Linked DNA regions of Homo sapiens: all the other regions are linked to region 3. Evidence: fine-mapped expression QTL. A gene starts in region 3. Each other region holds a variant in brackets. All regions are shown on one strand. Distances are from middle to middle. Region 1 overlaps LINC03075 (long intergenic non-protein coding RNA 3075). Region 2 has its middle 23 kb from the start of LINC02848. Region 3 holds the start of ZNF727 (zinc finger protein 727).

Region 1 (8,187 bases), 680 kb after region 3:
ACAAATCTTGTGTTATAAATTTTGGGAAACCCTATAAACCTGTTTGGAAATGTGTTTTTGTAATCAACACAACCTAGAAGATACCAGCGAAATATACAATTCTTATGTGAAAATGCTTATGTGGTGTTTTAGTATCAGATATCTGTGCATCACAGTAATGAGAAGATCATAGTCATACCAATTGCATTCAACTGGAGAATTTGGAGGAAAATGGAGGGCATGCCTTGTGTACCTGAGGTCTCCGGTTCAGGAGCAGTCAAGGTCCTCCTCTTCTCAGACATTCTCTCCACTATGCATGGAAGACAGGGGCTTTCAACACAAATTATTTTAAGACAAATTCATTCATATTCAGAAATATAGCAATTGTCCACTGAGTATGTTCCTTAATATTTTGATGCCCACATGGACCACAAATTTATTTTATCATCATTTGTTCCTTTCTGTGTTTTACTTATCCTGATTTCATCCTCTCTGTTTTCTACTTTAAAGAAACACACATGCTTGATGACGATATGCCTGCTGAATACAGACAATGATTATTTGTGTTTTTAAAAACCAAATTTACTTGTCACATTTTGGACTGTGTTTTATTGAACACATTGCAGTTGGTAGTCTTCAGAGGTATAAGCAGAAATACTAAACCAAGAGGATGTTTTATAATAAGAAAATACCATTGTTTTAATACCATTGTTCTCATCATGAAATAACCTCACCCAAACTAATACACAGAGTATTTTAAAGTTTTGGTTTACTTAGAAACAATACCATACTAAAACAATTTACTTTAGGAAAAGATTTCAAAGCACACTGAGTATCACCTCCTCCCCATTTATACAAGGTAGTAGTTAGCTCAACAGAAATTTATATAAACAGCAGAACATTATATTTTCAGATAGTTTTAATATCACAAGAAAAAAATCTCTATTGGCAATTACTATAATGAAATGAAACAAAAGAATCTGGGTATCTGCTAAAATCTTATTACTGTAAAATGTTAGACATATCTTGTGTTTTTAACATCCTAATTTGAAACAGTTCTAAAATATCAGAATTATATAAAGCAATCTTCAAAGTTTAAAGAAGCAAGAAGTATGACTAAATAATTTTATTAGTTCAGATTTCTGTGTTTACAAATTAAAACTTCACATAAATGCAGAAAGTTGTAGTTCAGCTAATTATATTGAGAGTTCAGCTATTATATTGAGAAAAGTCAAATGTATACAAATTCAAGTAGAACATCTCCAAAAATCTAAATGTTTTTCTACAAATCTATAAATTTGTTACTTCATAAGATTAATTATTTTGTATCTGGAAACACCTTCTTATGATAGTTAGAATTCAATGAACCACAGACTGAAATTATTAGGAGCTAATTCTAACAACTAGCTAATAAAATTCTATCTCGATTCACCACTCACCTAGACTTGTGAGCACCCACTGTTAATGAAGCTGAGAAGCAGACACCCAGGTCAGTCTTTGGAGTGAGTCTGTGTATGTGAGATCAGATCCAACAAGTGGTTATAGGGAAGGGATGTTGTCAACTCATCTCCCTCCAGGCCTACAATTGTCATGTCGCCTGTAGAAAAAGGATAAGAGCAGATGTTGAGATTGGTGGAAAAAGGAGCCACCAAAGGGAAAAGTGAACTTACCTATCTGAGGAGGAGCAGCTGGGTTCCACACTTTTCATATCTGAAGATCACTTACACAAGTCAACTTTGCCTGGTGAGTTGGATGATCTCAGTATTTGTCAACAAAACAGGATTCTCCCAATAACACTCCTGTCTAAGTAATGAGAATGTCATGTCAGTCTTCCCAGTGTGACTCTGGTGACTTAAGAATGTTTTCATAGTAAATACTGAAGTTTCTTATAGCAGTAGGAAGCCTTGCACCTGATAATTTTCTTTTTTTAATTGGCAAAGGTAATTGTGTATATTTATGTGGTACAATGTAATATTTTGATTTATAGGAAGATCCAGTCAAGCTAATTAATATATCGCCTAACCAAATTGCTAACAATCTATTCTTTTAGCAATTCTGAAATATACAATTTATTATTAAGAACTCTGGTCATCATTCAGTACAATAGATCACTAAAACTTCTTTCCCCAGCCTAACTGAAACCTGTACCCTTTGATCAACATCTTTGCTATACCCATTCCACCCCGACCATAGCCTCTGGTGATCACCTTTCTTCTCTGTTTCTATGAGATCAACATTTTAGCTTTCATATATGTGAGATCATACATTATTTGCCTTTCTGTGCCTGGTTTATTTTCACTGAGCATAATGTCCTCCTGTGTCACCCATAGCCATTCAAATAAAACAATTATTGTAATCCAATGACCTTAGGGTCCCAGCTGGACTATAACTACCTTTTTGAGAAAGAAAAAAAAGTCTCCTCTGACTGACATTCCCAGAAATAATGCTCTGTTCTCCAGGTGACACAGCCTTGCTCCAGGGTACCTGGCATTGGAATTCGAATGCAGGCTGCATTTTAACACTTATTTCCCCCACCTATTTCATCAATTTTCTTTACGGAGGGCAGAAGGGTTCCATCTATTTAAGCAACACCGAGGGTTAGGATCGGCACTGTTCTTTGCAATATAGCTTATTTAGACATGGAGTTCTAAATGGCCATGCCTCCCATGGTGATGTGTTCTGTCAACCCCAACCTTCAGTCTCCTCGGTTCCTTCTACTCAAGAGACACTGGATCTCACATATCCAGCAGGAGAACATCCACATTTTAAACACTATTCAGTTTTGATTTTGTGACAACAACTAGCCACATCTTTGTGTAATTAGCTCTAACTTTAACCTTAATTGTTATGACTATCATATTTGTGGCCCACTTTCTTAACCAAACACTATCTTGTGTTAAAGTGAAGATTTCTTTTAACAAACCAATACATTTTTTACCTGGGTACTAGATCAAACTGTTTAGCTTCATTTTGAAGTATCTCTCTCACATTTCATCTCTAATGCTCAAGCAAACAGTTCCCACACTCAACACCTGCCCTGCAGACTTCAAATGTTTGCAATTATATGTCTTCCTGCTTTCTCCAACCCGGTACACTCTATAATCAGCTACTATCACTATGTTATCATTGACAAATCCAGCTAACTTATTAGATCTTATTTGTTTGCCCCCTCCTCTCAAACTTCTGTCATTTCAAATGAAATAAATGGTTTCTAGTGCACTTCCCCAACACTTCTGTGTCTTTATTTGTGCCTGACTTTTCTTTCCTTCTTCCAAACTGGCTGGACAGTACGTATGTCTGAATAAAGCACTGGGCTGTGGCTTATTTGGAAAGAACCTGGAACTGTGCAATAAATAGATGCTTCTAGTAAAAAAAGAAATCTGAAGCAGATTCTGATGAGTTAAAATGTATGTATTAAATCCTAGTCTGAACAGTAATTAAATAACTCAAAGAAAAAAGCCATATAGATATTAAAATGTAAGATAAAATGTATTTACTTAATGCAAAAGAAAGCAGTTAAGGAAAGAAAAAAATGAGACATGTAGAAAACAAAATTTAGAAACATTAAATATAAAAGTATTCAACAATCAACATGCAGAGTTTGCCAACTGGGATGTTAAAATCAAGAACCAACTCTGGCTGGCATGGTGCCTCTTGCCTGTAATCCCAGCACTTGGGGAGGCCGAGGCAGGAGGACCACCTGAGGTCAGGAATTTGAGACCAGCCTACCTAACATGGTGAAAACCCATCTCTACTAAAAATACAAAAGTTAGCCAGGCATGGTGGCACATGGTGGCGATTCTCCTGTCTCAGCCTCCCAAGTAGCTGGGATTACAGGTGTACACCACCACGCTCAGCTGATTTTTGTACTTTTAGTAGAGACAGGGTTTCACCATGTTAGCCAGGCTAGTCCCAAACTCCTGACCTCAGGTGATCCACCCACCTCGCCCTCCCAAAGTGCTGGGATTACAGGTGTGAGCCACCATGCCCAGCCAGAGCATGCTTTTTATCTATCATGCAAGAACTCAGAGGGAAGGTGGCTATCTTCAAGCAAGGAAGAGATAGTTCGCTGAGGAATTGAATCAGCTGGCACCTTGATCTTGGACTTTTCAGTCTCCAGAGCTACAAGAAAGAAATACCTATTGTTTAAGCTACTAAGTCTATGGTATTCTACTATAGCATCTAAAGGATGCTAATACAGATTTTGATATGGAGAAGTGGGGTCCTGATATAATAAACACCTAAATGTGTAAGCAGCTTTGGAACTGAATGATGTATAAAGGCATCAAAGAGTTTGGAAGTGCATATTAAAAATATGTAATCAAGCTGAATTCTGATGAGGGCTCAGGAAGAAAATACAACTGCAGAGGAAGTTTTCATCTTCTTAGAAAATATGTAAATAATTTTGAAGACAATGTTGGTAAAAATATGGACATTAAAGGCCAATCTAATGAGGTATGAGACAGAAATGAGTAACATTAGAAACTGAAGAAAAAATAGCCACAAATAAAATGAAATACCTAGCAATGTACTTAATCAAAGAAGTAAAATATCTGTATAATGAAAACTATAAAACACTGATTTTTAAAAAATTGAAGAGGACACAAAATTTTTTTTTAATTTGCTTTTTATAGATTAGAAGAATCAATATTGTTAAAATGTCTATACTAGCCAAAGCAATCTCAGTTTCAATGCAATTCCTATCAAAATACCAATGACATTCTTCACAGAAATAAGAAAAAAATTCTAAAATTCATATGAAACCTTAAAAGACCTAGAAAAAAACTAAATAAAACAAAAAGAATAAAACTAAGGGAATCACATTACCTGACTTCAAATTATACTACAGAGTTATAG[T/A]AACCAAAACAACATGTAATGTATATATTATTTACTGTACAAAATAACACAGAAGGTAGATTGTTAAGAATTCATATGAGATAAGGTTAATGATGAATAATGAAGATTGTCAAGAATTCATATGAGATAAGCTTAATGATGAATAAATGAGCAAAATAAAAATAATGATGATTGGGATAATGTCACTTTAGAATGAACATTGATGATGTGAGGTATATTGTTTCTTCCAGACATACAAAAATGTTTCTTCTATGTCATTAAGATGAAAACAATTTTTACTTATGTTATCATTAACAAGTGCCTTTATTTTTCGAGTTGGCATTGGATTATTCATCAATACCATTTTTTTTTTCTTTCAAATCTTTACATTTCTTCTGGATCCCAGGCCAAAGTTCCATGACTTGATCATCTGCCACTTGGTCCTCAGTCATATTCTAATGCTCCTTACTGCAGTGGATTTTTTTCCTCAAGTTGTGTTTGAATCACTGAATTTGGGAATGGCTTTAAATGTAAGCTATTATTTTACACAAAAAGGGTGATAAGAGGCATCTCCCTCTGTCCCCCCTGGCTCTTGAGTGTGCTCCAGGCCATCACCGTCAGTCCCAGAAACTCATGGTTGGCAAGGTTTAAACATAAATTTACAAATTACATTACCAATGTTTTTCTTCTTTTTTGGTTCTTCAATTTGTCTTTTAGTAGCAGCCTAATCTTCTTCACTGTGTATTTTTCAAATGTGACTCAGACTGATCTATTGAATGTCAGTAAACACTGCTCACTTTTCCCCATGAACCTCATCATCAGGGAGTGAAATTATCCAGGGATGCCTTCCTTGTCAGAGTTATGCTGCTCTCAAGTGCATTCATGTGGATCCTCTTTTTCAGAAATCAGAAGCAATCCCAGCTCCACAGCACCAGCATCTCTCCAAGAATCTCCTCAGAGAAAAGGGCCACCCAGACCATCCTGCTGTTATGAGTTGCTTTGTGGTCATGTATCCTATGAACCTTCTTATTTCAACATCCTCAATCCTGTTATGGGTGTATGACCCAGTTGTCCTGAATTTCCGGAGGCTTGTGCTCAATGCATATGCCACTGTTATTCCACTGGGACAAATTAGTTCTGATTAAAAAAAAAAGTATTCTGCAGAATTGTAATTGATGTGCCACCAATTTTAACAAGCTATTGATGAAAAACGTTTTCTGAAAAATAGTCATCTGCTATTATTTAAACTGCTCAAGTAGCTCATTTTTTATCTGATTTAACCAATGTGTATAAGATCACCTTTTAAAATTATATATGAATACTTTTGAAGCTGATATTACTAAGGACTTTATAGCTTGCTAAGTTCAATATCTACCATAAATTGATATTCTCATATCAAATCTTTTTCTCTTTAATTTTCATTTTAACTTCATATTAGTAAATGTTTCTTTTTTCTTAAAAGGTACTCTTAAGCTCCTGTTGGTAATCAAATCTCTCAAAATTTTAGCTTTTGAAAATATTTTAATTTACCCCTACTTTAATAAGTAGGGATATTATGGTATTATGTAGGGGTATTAGGTATTATGACTATTCAATTATATCTTTAATATCATGCTTCCTCATTAGAATTTTCCTGATTCTGTAAAAATTATGTCAGTTTGGATTTTATATTGAAAATCTAGAATTTATTTAAATGGGTCTAAATAAAATTTGCATGTGGCTAGACATTAGTTTGGTTACACTTAATTTTTCCATTTTAATTGGGATATGATTGACAAATAAAAATTGTATAAGTTGTATCACCTTACATATATGTTCTAATAAAGTTATATATTGTGAAATTATTAATATAATCAAGCGAATTAACATGTCCCTCACACCTCACCTAGTTGCCTTTTCCTAGTGTGGTGAGACTATTTGAGTTTTATTTTCTTATCAAAGTTCAAGTGTACAATACATTATTAATAACTATAGTTATGGAACAAAAGGCAGCAGAAACCTCTGCAGACTTAAATGTCCCTGTCTGACAGCTTTGAAGAGAGTGCTGGTTCCCCCAGCACAGAGTTTGAGATCTGAGAACGGACAGACTGCCTCCTCAAGAACGGACAGGGTGCCTCCCGAGTAGCCTAACTGGGAGGCACCCCCCAGTAGGGGCAGACTGAAACCTCACATGGCCGGGTACCCCTCTGAGATGAAGCTTCCAGAGGAACAATCAGGCAGCAACATTTGCTGTTCAGCAATATTCGCTGTTCTGAAGCCTCTGCTGCTGATACCCAGGCAAACAGGGTCTGGAGTGGACCTCCAGCAAACTTCAACAGACCTGCAGCTGAGGGTCCTGATTGTTAGAAGGAAAACTAACAAACAGAAAGGACATCCACACCAAAATCCCATCTGTACATTACCATCATCAAAGACCAAAGGTAGATAAAACCACAAAGATGGGGAAAAAACAGAGCAGAAAAGCTGAAAATTCTAAAAATCAGAGTGCCTCTCCCCCTCCAAAGGAACACAGCTCCTTGCCAGCAACAGAACAAAGCTGGAAGGAGAATGACTTTGACAAGTTGAGAGAAGAAGTTTTCAGACCATCAAACTTCTCTGAGCTAAAGAAGGAAGTTCGAACCCATTGCAAAGAAGCTGAAAACCTTGAAAAAAGATTAGACGAATGGCTAACTAGAATAACCGGTTAACAGAAGTCCTTAAATAACCTGATGGAGCTGAAACCCATGGCACGAGAACTATGTGACGAATGCACAAGCTTCAGTAGCCAATTCGATCAACTGGAAGAAAGGGTATCAGTGATTGAAGATAAAATGAATGAAATGAAGCAAGAAGAGAAGTTTAGAGAAAAAAACAGTAAAAAGAAATCAACAAAGCCTCCAAGAAATATGTATTTGTTTTTCTTGAAATTTATATTCCTGTCCCGTCTAAATATTGATTAAAAGAGAGGTAGGCACAAACTTTTATTTTGGTTACATTTTGCAAAGTTCTCTAATTTACTTTAGATGATGGGTCCCATCTACTTCATGAACATATGTGAGTATTAAGTACAACAAGTACAATAATCTCCTCCCTACAACAGAGGACCCTGAGACACTAGGGAAACATGGATTGCCAAAATCTTTGTCTTTCCACATTATTCTTCCCTTTACTTTTTATTGCAATGAAAATATAAAAAGATAGTATGCTACAAATTAGAAATTGATTAGTGGATAATATGCATACGTTATTACAGTAAGTTCAAGAATAAGTAGAATATATGAATAGAACCAAAACAATTAGAGATTAAACTTTTTCTATGAAGAAAAGCTCAGTAGATAGTTTCACTTGTAAATTTGACCAAATATTTAATAATGAGTTAAAACCAGGTCTTTT
Region 2 (8,187 bases), 170 kb after region 3:
ATGGGGTTTCTCCATGTTGACCAGGCTGGTCTTGATCTCCTGACCTCAGGTGACCCACTCACCTTGGCCTCCCAAAGTGCCGGAATTACAGGCATGAGCTACTGCGCCTGGCCCATATAAAACTTTTGAAGCCTAGAACCTTCTTCACCATGGACACTGTACTGTGTCCTCCACATGCACAAGTCTCTGAAAAATAGGAGCTTCCTGGTATAAGCCCCAGCCCCCAATCTGCCAGTGGTGCACAGTGCTGCCATTGACCATATGTCTCTTCTTGTTCCCCTGCATATGAAAATAAGTCTACCCTAAACCTTGAGATGAGAATAATGCCGACACTCCCAGCCAGGTACAAGAGAGAAGCTGAATGAGCTTCTGGTACTAGACTTCCAGGTTGAGCCATCTTCTCCTTTACCACACTCCTAGGCTCCTACCAGGACTTCACCACCAATCCACAGTTCCTGGGTAAGCTATTCAGTAGGTGTCTGTCTCCTCCAAGACACAGTGGTGACTCTGCAAGCTACCAGGTGGGTACTAAGGATATCATTGCAGCTCTCTGTGCCTGTCTATGCCTCTGAAAAGTGAGAAGATGAACCTCATAGAGTTCTTGTAGGGACTAAATGGCATAAGACACAGCAAGCAGATGCTGAGTGCCTGGCTGCTTAGGATGCTCTGGTTGCTTATATATATTGTTTCTGTCTTTTTGCCCAAGAAGTTCTCCTGCCTCATTGGCCTGTGTCCCTCTACATTTGAAACAGCACCTAGAAAGCAAAGCTGTGTTTGCATTGGTAAACCACATTTGAGATTTCTTCTAGCTGGATTTTGTCCTTGACAGAGAATGAATAAACTTCCTAGGATGCTGAAAGAGGAGTCCCTACCCAACTCAGATATCTGAGGAGGTTCTTGTTGAGGTTTGTTTATTCAATACATATATTTTCGGTACAATGTGTACATCAGTTTTCTAGATGCTTGGCATAATTCAGTGAACAAAGATGACAGTGCCTGGGCCTCTGCATTTTTACTGCTAATTATGGAGCTTCTATTACACAGCGAGCACTGCTCTGTGTGTGTTCATTTCTGTGCCAAAACAGCCTCATGATGTATGAAGCCTTCCACTGTTTACATAAACAAATTGGCTCAGTAAACTTGATTATGTCCATTACAAAAAGAACAATCATGAAAGAAAAAGTGGCTTAAATGGAGTTCTCCAATTAAAAGAAAAAGGATGGAATGTAACTTAAAACACTCGCTGTAGAAACACTAACATCTAAAAGTTATTTTCTGAGCATGATTAAATTTCATAAAATTTATATAATCCCAGATTATAATCCAAAAATAAAATTATCCAATAATAAAATTTCATAAAATTCTTATAATCCCAGAGGACATCATATAAAGAATACTTCACGAACCTTGGAATGAAAAAATTATATAGCAGGTCCAGCATAAGAAACAGGCAAGAAAAAAACAGAGGATTTCCATGGAGATTCTGAGCCAACGGGCCATAAGATTTTAGATAAATGAATTCAATACAAAGCAGAGAAAATAGATTTGCTTTCAGAATCTTTGAGGTTTTGATCTGCCTAGTAAATATCATCACTTTTAAAAATTATCTGTATTGATCTAATGTTTGTCTTTTCTTCTCAAAATAGGTACACACTCACACAAACATAGTTAAATTCACCACAAATCTCTTACACCTGAAGTTTATCGATAATGTGATATATTTGTATATGTAAACCCATGTAAATCAAAACTAAAAATCTGTGTTTTGCAGACTAGAGTGGGCACATTCAGATAAATATAGAATAAAATTTTAAAATAGTCATTCAGAATTCAGAAATATGTGAATATATTTTATTATAGTCTTATGTAATCTTTATTATAACCATATGTGAATGTATTTTATTATAGTCTTATGTAATCTTTATTATAACCATAATGATCCTATAGTTACAAAAAGAAGAAAAAATAAATGTATTACCTCTGGTAACAATATTCCACTGGGAAAAGGGATTACAAAAGATGTCATTGTACTACGTTATCCTCTACTATGCTATCCAATAGTATATTGTGACCATCAGTTACCTACAACATGGGGTAAGGTGGGATAGGTTAATGTTGGTGGTAAGATGCATTTCATTCAATGGAAAATAGTCTTAACATACTAAAAACAATTTTATTCCATTAAAATAAATTAAGTTCAAACATTATCTCAAAAAGCATTTTAAACTCCACTGCATTTTATTATTTTAATGTGTAACTGGTAAAACAATTGACTTCTAAGATTCAAAATGCTTCTCTTCTCCTACAATGCTGAATCATGTTACCCTGAACACCTACCTCATGAATCACTTACAACATTGTTATAAGGGGCCTCTCCACTTAGATTTTCTTTATGCATCTTACATTCAAGTGTCCTTAGTGTTCCATGGAAAAGTGTATTAATGGTGCCCACTTAATAGAGAAAGATGTCTCAGAGCTCTGATGCAGAAACCATTAACCACGTGCTTTCACATGAGCACTAGAAATGATGATATAACATCAAGACATTTGTGAGTTTAACTTACATAAATATTTGCTTTTCAAAGTAACTATAATTATTTCAATTCCAAAAAGTATAATTTGAATGTAATTATAACTGTCCAAAAAAGAGAAAATCAATCTCCTTCTCCATTTAAACTTACACACAAGTAAGCAATCTATTTTAAATTATTCTCTATAATCATCACTGATTAGAGTAATGTCTCAAACTGTTACTGCCTTGGTGCTTTCTACTGTCAATCTATGACATTTACTTTGGCTTGATTTCTAATTTACTTTTTCACATTTCCTAAATCTGTATAATAAATTCTAGTAGAAACTCTCCAGTGTTCTCTAAGGTATATGTATGGAACAAAAGTTTTTCCACATAATTACATCCATAGGGTTTCTCCCCAATATAAAGTTTGAGGAATTCCTGGAAAGTTTCCCTTCAGTATAAATTTTTCAGTGTACAATAAAATCTGTGGTATAAGTAAGGTATTCTGCCTTTATATTTGTAATGCTTTTCTTCACTAAAATAATCTTGTGCACGTTAAGGGTTATATTTTGTGAACAATCCTTCAACAGTCATTACATTAATACCACTTTTATTTAGTATGAAATCACTGCTGTAGATTGTGATGTCAGCATTCACTAATGGTTTTGCCACATTTTTCACCTTGGTAGGGTCTCTCTCCAGAATGAATTCACTTACAGTAAAAGTTGAGCACAAATTAAAACCTTTGCTACATTCCCTACAATTGTAGGTGTTCTCGATCACATGAATTATCTTATATTCAGTAAGGATTGAGCATTGATCAAAGACTTACCACATTCTTCACATTTCTTGAGTTTCTTTCCAGTTTGAATTCTCTTATGTTTAGTAAGGTTTGAGAACCAGTTAAAGGCTTTGCCACATTTTCCACATTTGTAGGGTTGCTCTCCAGTATGAATTCTCTTGTGTCCAATAAGGTGTGAGCTCTGATTAAAGGTTTTGTCATATTCTTTACATTTGTAGCATTTCTCTCCAGTATGAATTCTCTTATGTTTAGTAAGGATTGAGCCATGCATAAAAGCTTTTGCACATTCTTCACTATTGTAGGGGTTTCTCTCCAGTATGAATTCTCTTATGTTGAGAAAAGTATGAGAACCAGTTAAAAGTTTTGCCACATTCTTCACATGTGTAGGGTTTCCTTCAGTATGAGTTCTCTTGTGTCCACTGAGATGTGAGCCCTAGTTGAAGGCTTTGCCACATTCTTCACATTTGTAAGGTTTCTCTCCAG[T/C]ATGAATTCTCTTATGTCCAATAAGGTGTGAGCACTGGTTAAAGGCTTTGCCAAATTCTTCACATTTGTAGGGTTTCCCTACAGTACAAATTCTCTTATTTTGAATAAGGTTTGAGAACCAGTTAAAGGCTTTGCCACATTCCTCACATTTGTATGGTTTCTCTCTTGTGTGAATTCTCTTATGTTGAGTAAGGATTGAGCACTGGTTAAAAGCGTTGCCACATTCATCACATTGAAAGATTTTGCTAAGGGTAGTTGATAAACATTGGTTAAGTCCATTATAACTTTTTTTCTGTCCCTTACAGTCACCTACACATTCCCAGTCTTTTCTTAAGTTTAAATTTTGAATGCCATAGCTTTCATATCTTCTCAGTATCACTTTTGGGAATGTTTTATGCTCTGCTCAGGCAAAAGGTCTGGAGTAAAATGAGGCAACACAGCTAAAAGAAATAAAAATACATTATACCACTTATTAGACTCAGGTGAATATACTTTACAAATACAAAATATAAAATTATACCAAGCACAATAAGATGGCACAATACTACAGGCCCAAATTCCTTAATAGACATGCAAACTTAACAAAAATATATTGACCAAAATGCCTTTGTAAGAGCTCTAAAAACCAGTTAAGAGACTGCAGTGCCATAGATGAGAATGATGCCAAGAGCCACAGAGAAGACAAAGGAGCATTTGTTACATTTAACCACCACAGCCATACTTCCTCCTAAACACAAAATAATGCCTTTAAGTATAAACCCTCAATGCCTGGCTTCTCTCTCAACAGTGAAAAAAAAAAATAGTGGCACATGTGTCCATACTTCTGGCTTTGAGGGATCTTTCCAAAGACTGGTTTCTGTCTACTGTGACACAGAGTGCCGAAAGAAATTGTGCTGTACTTTGAATGACAGGTTACTGTCTGTGAGACAAAAGGTAAATGATTTTTAGGCCAGCAGAGAGACTATAGGACCACAGAGAAACAGCAGGTGTACCAACTAATTACAGGCTCTTAAGCAGAAACATGGGCAAACCCGCATAACTCAATAAGGGGAACACAAATCTAGGGAAGAGACATCTTAAGAATGGTTTGAGAAATTCTCAATATCCATCCTGGTAAATTGCAGGGAAGAAATCCACTTTATACAGACTGTGATGGGTGGCTTTATTTTTAATGCACATATCTCAACCAAACACTACAATATATACAAAATATCAGACTAACACAGCCTAATCAAAGAAACAAGTATGCTGAAATCAACCCTAAAGAAATGAAGATGAATAAATTATCTGAAAAAAATCAAAATAAACATCTCAGTTATGCTCAATGTGTAACATGGGAACACAGACAACTAAGTGTAATCAGAAAAATAAGAATATCAACAAAATGACAAAAAGAAACAAGTTTTGGAGAAGAATACAAAAATGACTGAGAAATTATCCAATGTAAGAAAAAAATACTAAAAACTGAAGCTCAACAAACTCCATCTTGGATAAAAAGACCCATAACAAGACACAATCTAAGCAAAGTTTTGAAAGTCACAGAAAAGAAGAGAATCTTCTTTTTCTTTCTTTCTTTTTTTTATTTATTGATATTCTTGGGTGTTTCTCGCAGAGGGGGATTTGGCAGGGTCATAGGTCAATAGTGGAGGGAAGGTCAGCAGATAAACAAGTGAACAAAGGTCTCTGGTTTTCCTAGGCAGAGGACCCTGCGGCCTTCCGCAGTGTTTGTGCCCCTGGGTACTTGAGATTAGGGAGTGGTGATGACTCTTAACGAGCATGCTGCCTTTCAAGCATCTGTTTAACAAAGCACATCTTGCACCGCCCTTAATCCATTTAACCCTGAGTGGACACAGCACATGTTTCAGAGAGCACAGGGTTGGGGGTAAGGTCACAGATCAACAGGATCCCAAGGCAGAAGCACTTTTCTTAGTACAGAACAAAATGAAAAGTCTCCCATGTCTACTTCTTTCCACACAGACACGGCAACCATCCGATTTCTCAACCCCTTTCTACTCCACAAAACCGCCACCGTCATCATAGCCCGTTCTTCATGAGCTGCTGGGCACACCTCCCAGACGGGGTGGTGGCCGGGCAGAGGGGGTCCTCACTTCCCAGTAGGGGCGGCCGGGCAGAGGCGCCCCTCATCTCCTGGACGGGGCGGCTGGCCGGGCGGGGGGCTGACAGCCCCACCTCCCTCCCGGACGGGGCGGCTGGCCGGGTTGGGGGCTGACCCCCCCACCTCCCTCCCAGACGGGTCGGCTGGCTGGGCGGGGGCTGACCCCCACCTCCCTCCCGGACGGGGTGGCTGCCGGGCGGAGACGCTGCTCACTTCCCAGACGGGGTGGCTGCCCGGTGGAGGGGCTCCTCACTTCTCAGACCGGGTGGCTGCCGGGCGGAGGGGCTCCTCACTTCTCAGACGCGGCGGTTGCCAGGCAGAGGGTCTCCTCACTTCTCAGACGGGGCGGCCAGGCAGAGACGCTCCTCACCTCCCAGATGGGGTCGCGGCCGGGCAGAGGCGCTCCTCACATCCCAGACGGGGCGGCGGGGCAGAGGCGCTCCCCACATCTCAGACGATGGGCGGCCAGGCAGAGACGCTCCTCACTTCCTAGATGGGATGGCAGCCGGGAAGAGGCGCTCCTCACTTCCCAGACTGGGCAGCCAGGCAGAGGGGCTCCTCACATCCCAGACGATGGGCGGCCAGGCAGAGACGCTCCTCACTTCCCAGACAGGGTGGCGGCCGGGCAGATGCTGCAATCTCGGCACTTGAATGCAGAAAGACAAGAGGGATGTATCACCTATATGCATACTCCTGCAAGATTAACAAAAACCCAAGAGGAGAGTTGGGTTATATAGTCCAAGTGCTGAAGGAAAAAAACTTTTAGCAAAACTGTCCTAGAAAATTTTAAAAAATAAAGATTTTCCAAGATAACTAAATGCTGAGAAAGTACATCACCAGAATAACTGTCCTACAAAAATGCAAAAGGAAGTCTTTCCCATTAAAAATTTAAAATGCTAGAAAACAAACCAACTCATATAAAAATACGCAACTCTCTGAGAAAGATATGCACGTACACAAAAATAATACTTTATAGTATTATAATAAATAGGCAGAAAACAATTGTGCTTTAAAATTTGAAAGACATCATGAAAATTAAAGCACCCATTAATATATGATATACTTAGTGACATTGTTAAGTTGAGGGCAGATGTAATGAGCAAGAATTTTTGTATGCAACTGAGTGCAAGTTGTTACTAGTTTAAAATACACAGTTGTAACTTTAAGGTATTTTATGTAATTTAAATGGGAACCATAAAGAAAATGCAGATACACAATAGAAAATAAAAAAGCAAAGCATGTCACTGCAAATATCAACAAGACACAAATAAATACAAAGTAAATAGGGACAAAATAGCTACAAGAGTCAAATAAAACAATAAAATGGCAATTGCAAGTCATTTCCTTTCAGAAAAGTATTAAAATATTCATGGACTAAACTTTCCAAATCAAAAGGCAAATATTAAATAAAGGGATTTCTTTTTTGAATTTAGAAAACAGAATCCACCTATGTCATGTTTCCAAGAGACTCACCTCAGAAAATAGACTGAAAGTGGCAGGATGAGAAAAGCTATTCCATGCAAATGTTAACCAAATGAGAGCTGGAGAACTAATGATATTAAGTCAAAAGCTGACATATTTTATAAAATATAGTTTAAGTCAAAACTCACAATAGACACACAAGGACATTAAATTATAATAAAATGTTTCATTCACTGGGAACCTACTTATATCTCTTATCAGGGTTCCCAAATATATAAAGCAAGCATTGACAGAAATGAAGTAATGTAATACTGGGAGAATACTTTAATATTTTCAGTAATAAATAATAAAGCATGACAGAACATTAATAAGGGAACAAAGGACTTGAAAGCAATGTAAAACAATTACACCTAAAAGACATATACAGAATATGCCACACAACAGCAGAATACACAATCTTTTCAATAGCTCATAAGAAAATTCTCCTGGATACAACACCTGCTATCTCATAAAACAAGTCTTAATCCATTTTTGAACCTTGAATCTTACACACTGTTATTTTTGGCCAAAATTGAATGAAACTAAAAATCACTAAAAGAAGGAAAACCAAAAAAATTCACAAAATATGAAAATTAAACAATACGCTCTTAAGCATGCTCCTGTCCAAATGTTGGAAGACTTAATACTGTGAAGATGGCCATACTGACCAAAGTGATCTATCTACACATTCAATACAATCCCTTTCAAATTCCAAATTTTAGTTCTCCAAAAATAGGAAAACAACCTCCATATTATATGGAATATTAAGAAACCACAAAGAGCCTGACTATTTAAAAAAGAAAAACAATA
Region 3 (8,187 bases):
AACTTCAGATGAGTGTATTAGTCTAATGTTTCATGAGATTTTACAAAAATAATTAAGAATAAATAAATAAAACAGATGTAAATGGGACAAAAGCTTAAAACTTACAATACTAATTGTTTTGTAATGTGTTTAAATAGTTTCTCAAATCTTTATGGAAACTATAATCTTAGATTGTTGCTAACCTACATTAAATAATGGCTATTCATTAAACATCTAGATTATCTCTAAATAAGATAAAATGCTAAGATATTAATTTTTAAATATAAGTTTAAGCTAAATATTTTTGGTTTCTTCACAGAAACAAAAGATATTTAGATCTGTTAGTATGTCCTATTCCACATTAAAAATGTTTCCATTTAAAATCCTATGTTTCTAAAAATTATAAAATATATATTTCTAAATGTTTACTACATGACTAATAGTTAAAATTGCTTACTTCTCAGGCTTTCACTATATATTCAGATTACTAAAAATTAAAATTCTGGCTAAGATATAATAACTAAAACTATTGTTAAGGAGAGAAACAATTTTACATACAGAGTGTACAAGGAAAATAAGATGTGTTTCTTGGTGAAAAAAATTATTTTAGAAAGAGACAAGAGGATGTGGTTTTTCTTAAAGAGAAGGCAATCTTGCTGGGTTTAGAGGTTAAAGAATACATAAAATTGAAAGAATAAAAGATAAAGAAAATGAGGTAAATTCAATGGATATATAAAGTTGGAGAAAGAGAATAAAGAAAATTTTAAGGGGTTATAAAATGTTTCTAGAAATCTTATCTTGTATGGTCAGCTGACTGAGACTGAATACATCTGTTTATAAGGTTTTCTTAAAATTAGCTTTAATAATAATATAATAATACAAGAATAAAATTTGATTTTCTTTTTTAAACAAGATTTTTATGAAGAAAAAGATTTACTTCAAATTTGTTGGAAGGAACCATATTAGATTTTCTTGGCCAATACCTGTGCCACTAAATTGAAGACCAATATCTTTTAGAATATTTGGTCACCGCCCTCTCCATACATAGCTCTGCAAAAACCCAGCACTGGACAAATTCTCTCTAACTTTCTGCAGGCTTGGCCACCAATCTGTTTTAGATGAAGATTCTGTTTGAAAAAAATCTGCTAATTATCTGCCTGGCTTTCAAAGAACACCTTCATGCATTTTATTGGAAAAAATGCTTTTGCCTTGGTGAGGTGTCACTTCCCATGAACATATGATTTAAAATATTTTTATAAGCTTAGAAAGAATTACTGATAAAATTGTTGCATCCATTGCAGCTTAAAAACAAAAAAAGCTACTGATTTACTGGCTACAATTATACTAGACAATCATATTGCTTTAGGTTACGTATTACCTGAGCAAAGATATGTATGTATAGTGGCAAATACTTTTTTATTGTGTACACATAAATATTTCCTATGAAGTAGAAATTTTTCTAAAAAATAATGAGTTGCCCACTACCACAAATTCTCCACTCTGCACGAGACAGAAACTGATGTTTTCATGAATGTTTGTAATTTACGTGTTAATCTACCACACTTTCTTGTAAAAATGTATTTATTTTTCTGCAACCATCATGAGACAGACATTTCCTCTGTCTTTTCCCAGGTAGCATTCCCAAAGCTAAGCCCTGGGATTCTGTTTGAAATCATGCTAAAACAGAACAGACCTCAGAATCTTACTACATTCACTGTGCAATACATAAAAGGTAAATGAGAATTTTTAACCAATGGAATATAAACTATTTTTTTTCTGAAATCTACCTCTTTTCTCTTAGAAAACATTTGTGGTTTTTTTTAATCTTTCAAGCTCTAATGATAAAATCCATTTTACAATTAATGAAAAACTGAAGTTGAAATAACTGAACATATATATTCAAGGCAACAAACACGGGGTGAAGTAGTGCTGACTGGAACACAGATGTTTTAGACTCATGTGTCAATCACTTGAGAGATTCTCCCACCCCCATTCTGCTCACTAAAGTACTTGATCATCACTCTCCCAAAAGACACTGCACTTGCCCCCTGTGTGGCAGATGTGTATTTTGCTTTGCAAATTTATACACGCCCTCACTAGGGTGGGTCTTTCCTATACTTTGGGACAGTTATTCTCCTTCACAAGCCTGAGAGAAACCAGAGGGCAAGATGCATTTGTGCCTTTTTCCCTCAATACCAGCACCTGATTGGTTGAGCACCAATGTGTCTGCAGAAAGGAAAGCTAGGGTTGAGAGGGAAAAAAATCTTAATGTTAAAGCAGTTAGCTTTTTAGAGGAAGGGTGTATCAGGAAACTGCTCTCAGCACGAGGGCATCCAGCTGCTCCCCTGAGAGGCTCCACCCAATACCTCAGGCTCTTCTCTGAAAGGAGATGACCCAGGGGCTAATGTTTGCTAGACACTCCAAGAGACATGGTCCTTGTGGGTATCTTGGATCATCCCCAGAAAGCTGTAATACTTGGAACCAGGAAAATACAGGAGAGTGACTGAGGACACATCACCCTGCAAAGGATCCAAAGACATGCTGGGAAGGCGCGCGTGCCTAGAGAAGATGAGAGGAGATGCGCAGAGCGTCAGGTGATTACTCTCTGCTTTCCTGTTATGTGAAATGTTCACGAACAGACGAAATTAAAAAGAGCCACCTACTGCTCTCTTAAACAAAAATAAACAATTAAAATGCCACGTCCGTTTTGAAATTAAATAAAGGACTAATAGTTGATAATGTGATCTGGACAGGGATAGTCGGCATTGGGGAATGTGGGAAAGAAATTGGAAATGTAGAATTTTCTACAGTCCCTATAACAGTTAGGCTGGGAGAAGTTTTGGATTTGAGACCCTGCTTGCCAAACATTTGAAAATTGCAGACAAAACCAAGGACCCTGTAGAGCATTAAAATAACTAAATAGCTGGCAATTAGGCTGAAATGGCCATGATGCTCTGGGATTCTGCCTAAGGAAACCTAACTACGTCGAAAGAATTTCTTACAAATTACTAACTTTGAGAAAAAAAAAAAAAACACAAAACTTAGGCTTAACCAACCACAAGCTGCCAATAAAGCTCTAAGTACATAACCAGGACATTTCCACCGGATGGGTGCAAATGCAATACATAACTGTAACCAATCAAATACTGAATCTGGTTTGCTTCCTCATACCTCTTACAAAAGCCTTTTGTTCCAAGTCTCTCCTTTGAGCCCCCAAACCATAGTTGGATATTCTCTGATTCATAAATTGCTGTTTGTGCAAATAAACTGTTTGTATTAATCGGTTCTGGCATTACTATAAATGCCTCAGACTGGGTAATTTATAAGAAAGAGGATTAACTGGCTCATGGTTCCACAGGCTGTACAGAAAGCATAACACCAGCATCTGCTTCTGGGGGGGCCCCACCCAGGAAGCTTAAAATCCTGGTGCAAGGTGAAGCAGGAGCTTGAAAAGAAGGCAAGGGGGTTGCTATACACTTTTAAATAAGAACTTCAGGGAACTCAGTCACTATCGAGAGGTCAATACCAAGAGGAATGGTGCTAAACTATTCATGAGAAATTCACGCCCATAATCCAAACACTTTCCACCAGGCCCCACCTCCAACATGGGGTATTACATTTAAATAGGAGAGTTGGGCTGGAAAACACTTCGAAACTATATCCTAAAGATGCCTCAATTTAGGCTACGACAGTGGCTCATGCATGTAATCCCGGCACTTTAGGAGGCCCGAGGGGGGCGGATCACCTGAGCTCCGGAGTTCGAGACCAGGCTGAGCAACATTGCAAAAACCCGTCTCTACCAAACAAACAAAAAACAAAACCACAAAACCAGGCGAGGTGGCGGCGCATGTCTCCCTAGTCCTAGCTACTTGGGGAGCTGGGGTGGGAGGATCATCTGAGCCCAGGAGGTGGAGGCTGCAGTGAGCCGAAATCTTGCCACTGCACTTTAGCCTGGGCACAGAGTGAGACACTGTCTCCAAAATAAATAAATAAAATAAGCCACAATTTTTAAAAGGAGAAAGGAGGGACTGGGGACCCCAAGGCCCACTGCTTCTTCCACGGAGGAACTCCAGACCCTGAATGAGGATTCTCGTCTTATGACGTCCCCGCACAATCTGGAGGAGACTCGGGATTGCGACACAGAGCTGCCCAAAAAGTCTCTGGGCTGGAAAGAAATTCGCGTTTATGGACAAAACAAGACGCTCGGGTTTTGGCTGCAGGCTCAGCTCCTAATCTGCGACGGAGGGAAGTGAGGACTGAACTGTGCCCACGGGGACTCGGAGCTGCTGCAGAGCTGACCGCGAGGCCAAGATCCCACCGCAGCCAGTTCCGACCGGATTCAAACAGCCTCTTCCCCCTTCTCGGGACACCCACTCCGCGCACTCACCATTTCCCAGCCTCCGGATGTTCCGCCTTCTTCCCTATGGATCTCCCAGTACCTGCAGGTCACAGGATAACAGGGGCTATGGTGGAGTCACCGAGGAGCTAATGGAGCGGAAGAGATGGAATAGTACAGACGGGTACTGGACTCAGAGCCTAGAAGCTAGGAGACGAAGGCCTTGCCATATTGAAGAGCCCGCCTCTTCCTCTCTAGCTGCGCACCTGATTGGGCAGTTTTCACGCTAGCACCACTGATTGGCTGGGGTTCTCCGCCCCACACATTTAGACCCTGATCGACAGGAGATGTAATGAGACACTGGGCTGAATGAGGAAAGAGTGACAGGTTTTTGCCTGCAGCATGTTCAGGCAGCGATTTCTCCTTGTGTTGGGGGCCTGGCCCTGCCTGAGGGACATTTGTATTTAACGTTGTATATAAGATTATATCACTTTCTGATTATATTTACGTGTGTGTATATCAATTTCTGAATTATAGTTATGTGTATGCTGCAGGCCCTGTCTCAGCATCCTGTCTTTCCCTTTAGTTGCAGGAGATCAAAGTCCTCCAGGAGATGCAGCTGCACCAGCTGGCTGCAGACAATTATCACCTTCAGTCTGTGAAGCAATTTTGGGTCTGCTTCCAATTAATGGAGTGTCTCAGTGAGACTGAGAGGTGAGGGCCTAGCAGATTGGTTAGTGCCACTCACCCAGACCTCCCAAAACACCCTGTTTCTTTCCCACCAAAGCTGAGCCTGCCTGAGGACCTAAACAAGCATGGAGAACGAAGATGGGACCCTAGTCAGGGATAGTGCTGGGCTGTGGGGTAAAGTCAGCTGGGTCAGTGCCTCCAGGTGTGGGAAGGAGCCGGCCTCTTCTCTAGGGCCCTGGGCAAGTCACTGCCCTCTTTGGGCCTCTGTTTTCTTATCCAAAAAATGTAGGGATGATGAGACTGAGAGGGGCTAATGATGAGCTTCAAAGGAGAAAAGAACTTTGAGAGTGCTTGTGCCTGGCTCTTCCTGAGATGATGAGAACAATGGTGACAGCTACATATAACTGAGTCCTCACAAGGCCCAGTGAGGTAGGTGGTTCCCATCACACTTTCAAGTTGAGAAAACAGTCTCAGGGAGGCCTGGCTGCATGCCCAAGGTTCCACATACAGGGAGTGTTGGAGCAGGGAGTCAATCTAGAATCAGAACTTACTGGAGATGACAGGAGCATTGGACCAGCTTACTCACACCAGTTATCCAGGATACCAGGTCAGTGTAACTGGGCATAACTGGGTGAAGGGAGCATAGTATCACTGACCTTTTCTTTGACTCTGGCAGATGAAGACATCCACGTTGGCCACCCTGGAGACGAAACCACAGAGAGGCCAGATGAGGCTAAAGCAGCAAAAAGGCAGTGTCCCTGTGATGGGGAGGAGCTCCAGGGAGTCAGAGGGAAGAGCTCCTCCCTCACAGCCGGAGGCCTCCACATCAAAAGAGCAAGGGGCCTTTCTCCCGTAGCCCTTCCCTCCTGTGGCAACAGTCCCTGAAATGCCTCTATAAGACAAATCTGAGTAAAAGCCTGGAAGAGCTGGATTTGGGAAATAGTGGGGGCAGGGACCACATAACATTGTGACTTGTAAAAATCTCACCACAGAGTTAACATGGGAACATGGGGGTTCATGTTTTTGGAGGCCAGCTAGGAGGAGGGGAGAGAGTTGGGGAGAGGCAGCTGAGTGTCTTTGGCTTTTTCAAGTGGAAGATGTAGATAGGAGGGTCCAGGAGACAGGGGATTATGAGACTTCAGGGGACAGGCCTTGAATGGACACCCAAAATTGGATACTCATCCCCATCACCACCCGATGGCACAGGGTGTTGCCTCCATCCTGGGCACATTTTCCAGTTATCTGGTGATGGGAGACCCTGCCAGAAAGGATTATATGGATGGGAGTGAGCCTGGGATGGGCAGGGCTGGAACCAGGATCCTGAGGCTTGGGAAAAGAGAATCCAGGACTACACCCTTAGATCTCAGCACTTGGCAAACCTCCTCTCATGAGAGCCTCACGGCTGCCTCTGTGAGCTGAGGCATCAGGCCCCTCTTCCCTATGAATGTTGAAGATTCCACATCAGCCGTCAGTCCCTGTTCCCAGAGTGGTGAAGCTGCAGAGCTGCCTGCTTGCAAAGCTCAGTGAGGTTTGGCCTGAGCTGGACTCAGACTCTCCCTCAGGTGGTTCCAATGGAAGGAGAGTAAACTTAGACCTCTCTAAGGGCAGGCAGCTCATATAAGCCTGAGCACTTTTTTAATGGGAGCCTCCAGTTTTTCTGTCATCAGAGAGAGTTGGGGCGGGAGGTCCCTGAGCCTCAGCTCCCATTGTTCTGTTCTTTGAACCCCAGAACCTGCTGCAGACCCAACTCCTGCTTTGTGCACATGCCCTGACCCTGGTGGCCCTGGCAGTAATGCAGTATGAAGGGAGTGGGGAGGGGACCTAGTCTAAGGGTCTAAGGGGCCTTTCTAATGAACACTGGCTGTCTGACTTCCAGGGAAATGTGAATAACACCAAAAAAAAAAAAAAAAAAAAAGGAAGGTGAGTAGCTGGGGCAACACTGGGGGAGAGTGGAGAGGTAAAACTCACAGATGCCCCTGGGGAGAATACTCTGTGTATCTAACTTATTTATCTATTTATTTTGATATAGAGTCTTGCTCTGTTGCCCAGACTGGAGTACAGTGGCATGATCTCTGCTCACTGCAACCTTCACCTCACGGGTTCAAGCGATTCTCCTGCCTCAGCCTCATGAGTAGCTGGGATTACAGGTGCATACCACCACATCTGGCTAATTTTTTATATTTTTGGTAGAGATGGGTTTTCACCATGTTAGCCAGGCTGGTCTTGAACTCCTGACCTCAAGTGATCCACCTGCCTTGGCCTCCCAAAGCGCTGGGATTACAGGCATGAGCCACTGCACCCAGCTTAACCTTTTCAGTAAATCTAAGATGCAGAGGATGGAGCCTCTGCAATCTCAGATTTAGATTCCATCCTCTGCATCTTAGATTTATTGAAAAGGTTTGATACACAGATAAAGAGACCCATCACAATGGAGGGTGTGAGTAGGGGACTGAAATCAAAAACCAGTTCCTGGAGGAGGGGCTGTCTGTATCCAACTCTGAAAATAGGTTGGGGCTGCCTGGCATTAGAGAACAGGAAGAGGCCCTTAAGAGAAAAGCCCCAGAAAACAGCCCGTTACCTCTCTTCCCCACAAGTTCCCTTCAACATTTTTCACCCAGGTCCGGTTAGTAGGAAGTTTACTCTCCTTCCATTGGCACCACCTGAGGGAGAGTCTGAGTCCAGCTCAGGCCAAACCTCACTGGGCTTTGCAAGCAGGCAGCTCTGCAGCTTCACCACTTAGAGAACAGGGACTGGCGGCTGATGTGGAGTCTTCAACATTCATAGGGAAGATTCATAGATTCATAGGCCTGAAGCCTCAGTTCACAGAGGCAGCCGTGAGGCTCTCATGAGAGGAGGTTTGCCAAGTGCTGAGATCTAAGGATGTAATCCTGGATTCTCTTCTCCCAAGCCTCAGGATCCTGGTTCCAGCCCTGCCCATCCCAGGCTCACTCCCATCCACAAAATCCTTTCTGGCAGGGTCTCCCATCACCAGATAACTGGAAAATGTGCCCAGGATGGAGGCAACACCCTGTGCCATCGGGTGGTAATGGGGATAAGTACTCACTTTTGGGTGTCCATTCAAGGCCTGTCCCCTGAAATCTCATAATCCCTGTCTCCTGGAACCTCCTGTCCACATCTTCCACTTGTCCTTCCCTTTAGCTGCAGGAGATCAAAGTCTTCCA

The links. PIP is the estimated chance that this variant, and not a neighbour inherited with it, causes the effect.
Region 1: its variant is the best candidate, but not a certain one, in a credible set for the expression of ZNF727 in whole blood (INTERVAL, PIP 0.62).
Region 2: its variant is the best candidate, but not a certain one, in a credible set for the expression of ZNF727 in whole blood (TOPMed, PIP 0.68).

The regions. Positions count from the first base shown.
Region 1 is chr7:63,365,098-63,373,284 of GRCh38, reverse strand. It overlaps LINC03075 (long intergenic non-protein coding RNA 3075), which reads right to left. Exons shown (of 10, transcript XR_002956557.2): 4 at 1,650-1,782; 5 at 1,419-1,576; 6 at 233-289. It also overlaps the pseudogene VN1R31P. Among named protein-coding and RNA genes, the nearest start is that of LINC03075, 15 kb to the right of the region's middle. The variant T/A (reference allele first, on the strand shown) is at 4,837.
Region 2 is chr7:63,872,345-63,880,531 of GRCh38, reverse strand. No RefSeq gene overlaps it. Among named protein-coding and RNA genes, the nearest start is that of LINC02848, 23 kb to the left of the region's middle. The variant T/C (reference allele first, on the strand shown) is at 3,801.
Region 3 is chr7:64,041,804-64,049,990 of GRCh38, reverse strand. It overlaps ZNF727 (zinc finger protein 727), which reads right to left and starts at 4,557. Exons shown (of 4, transcript NM_001159522.3): 1 at 4,367-4,557. The coding sequence starts at 4,369.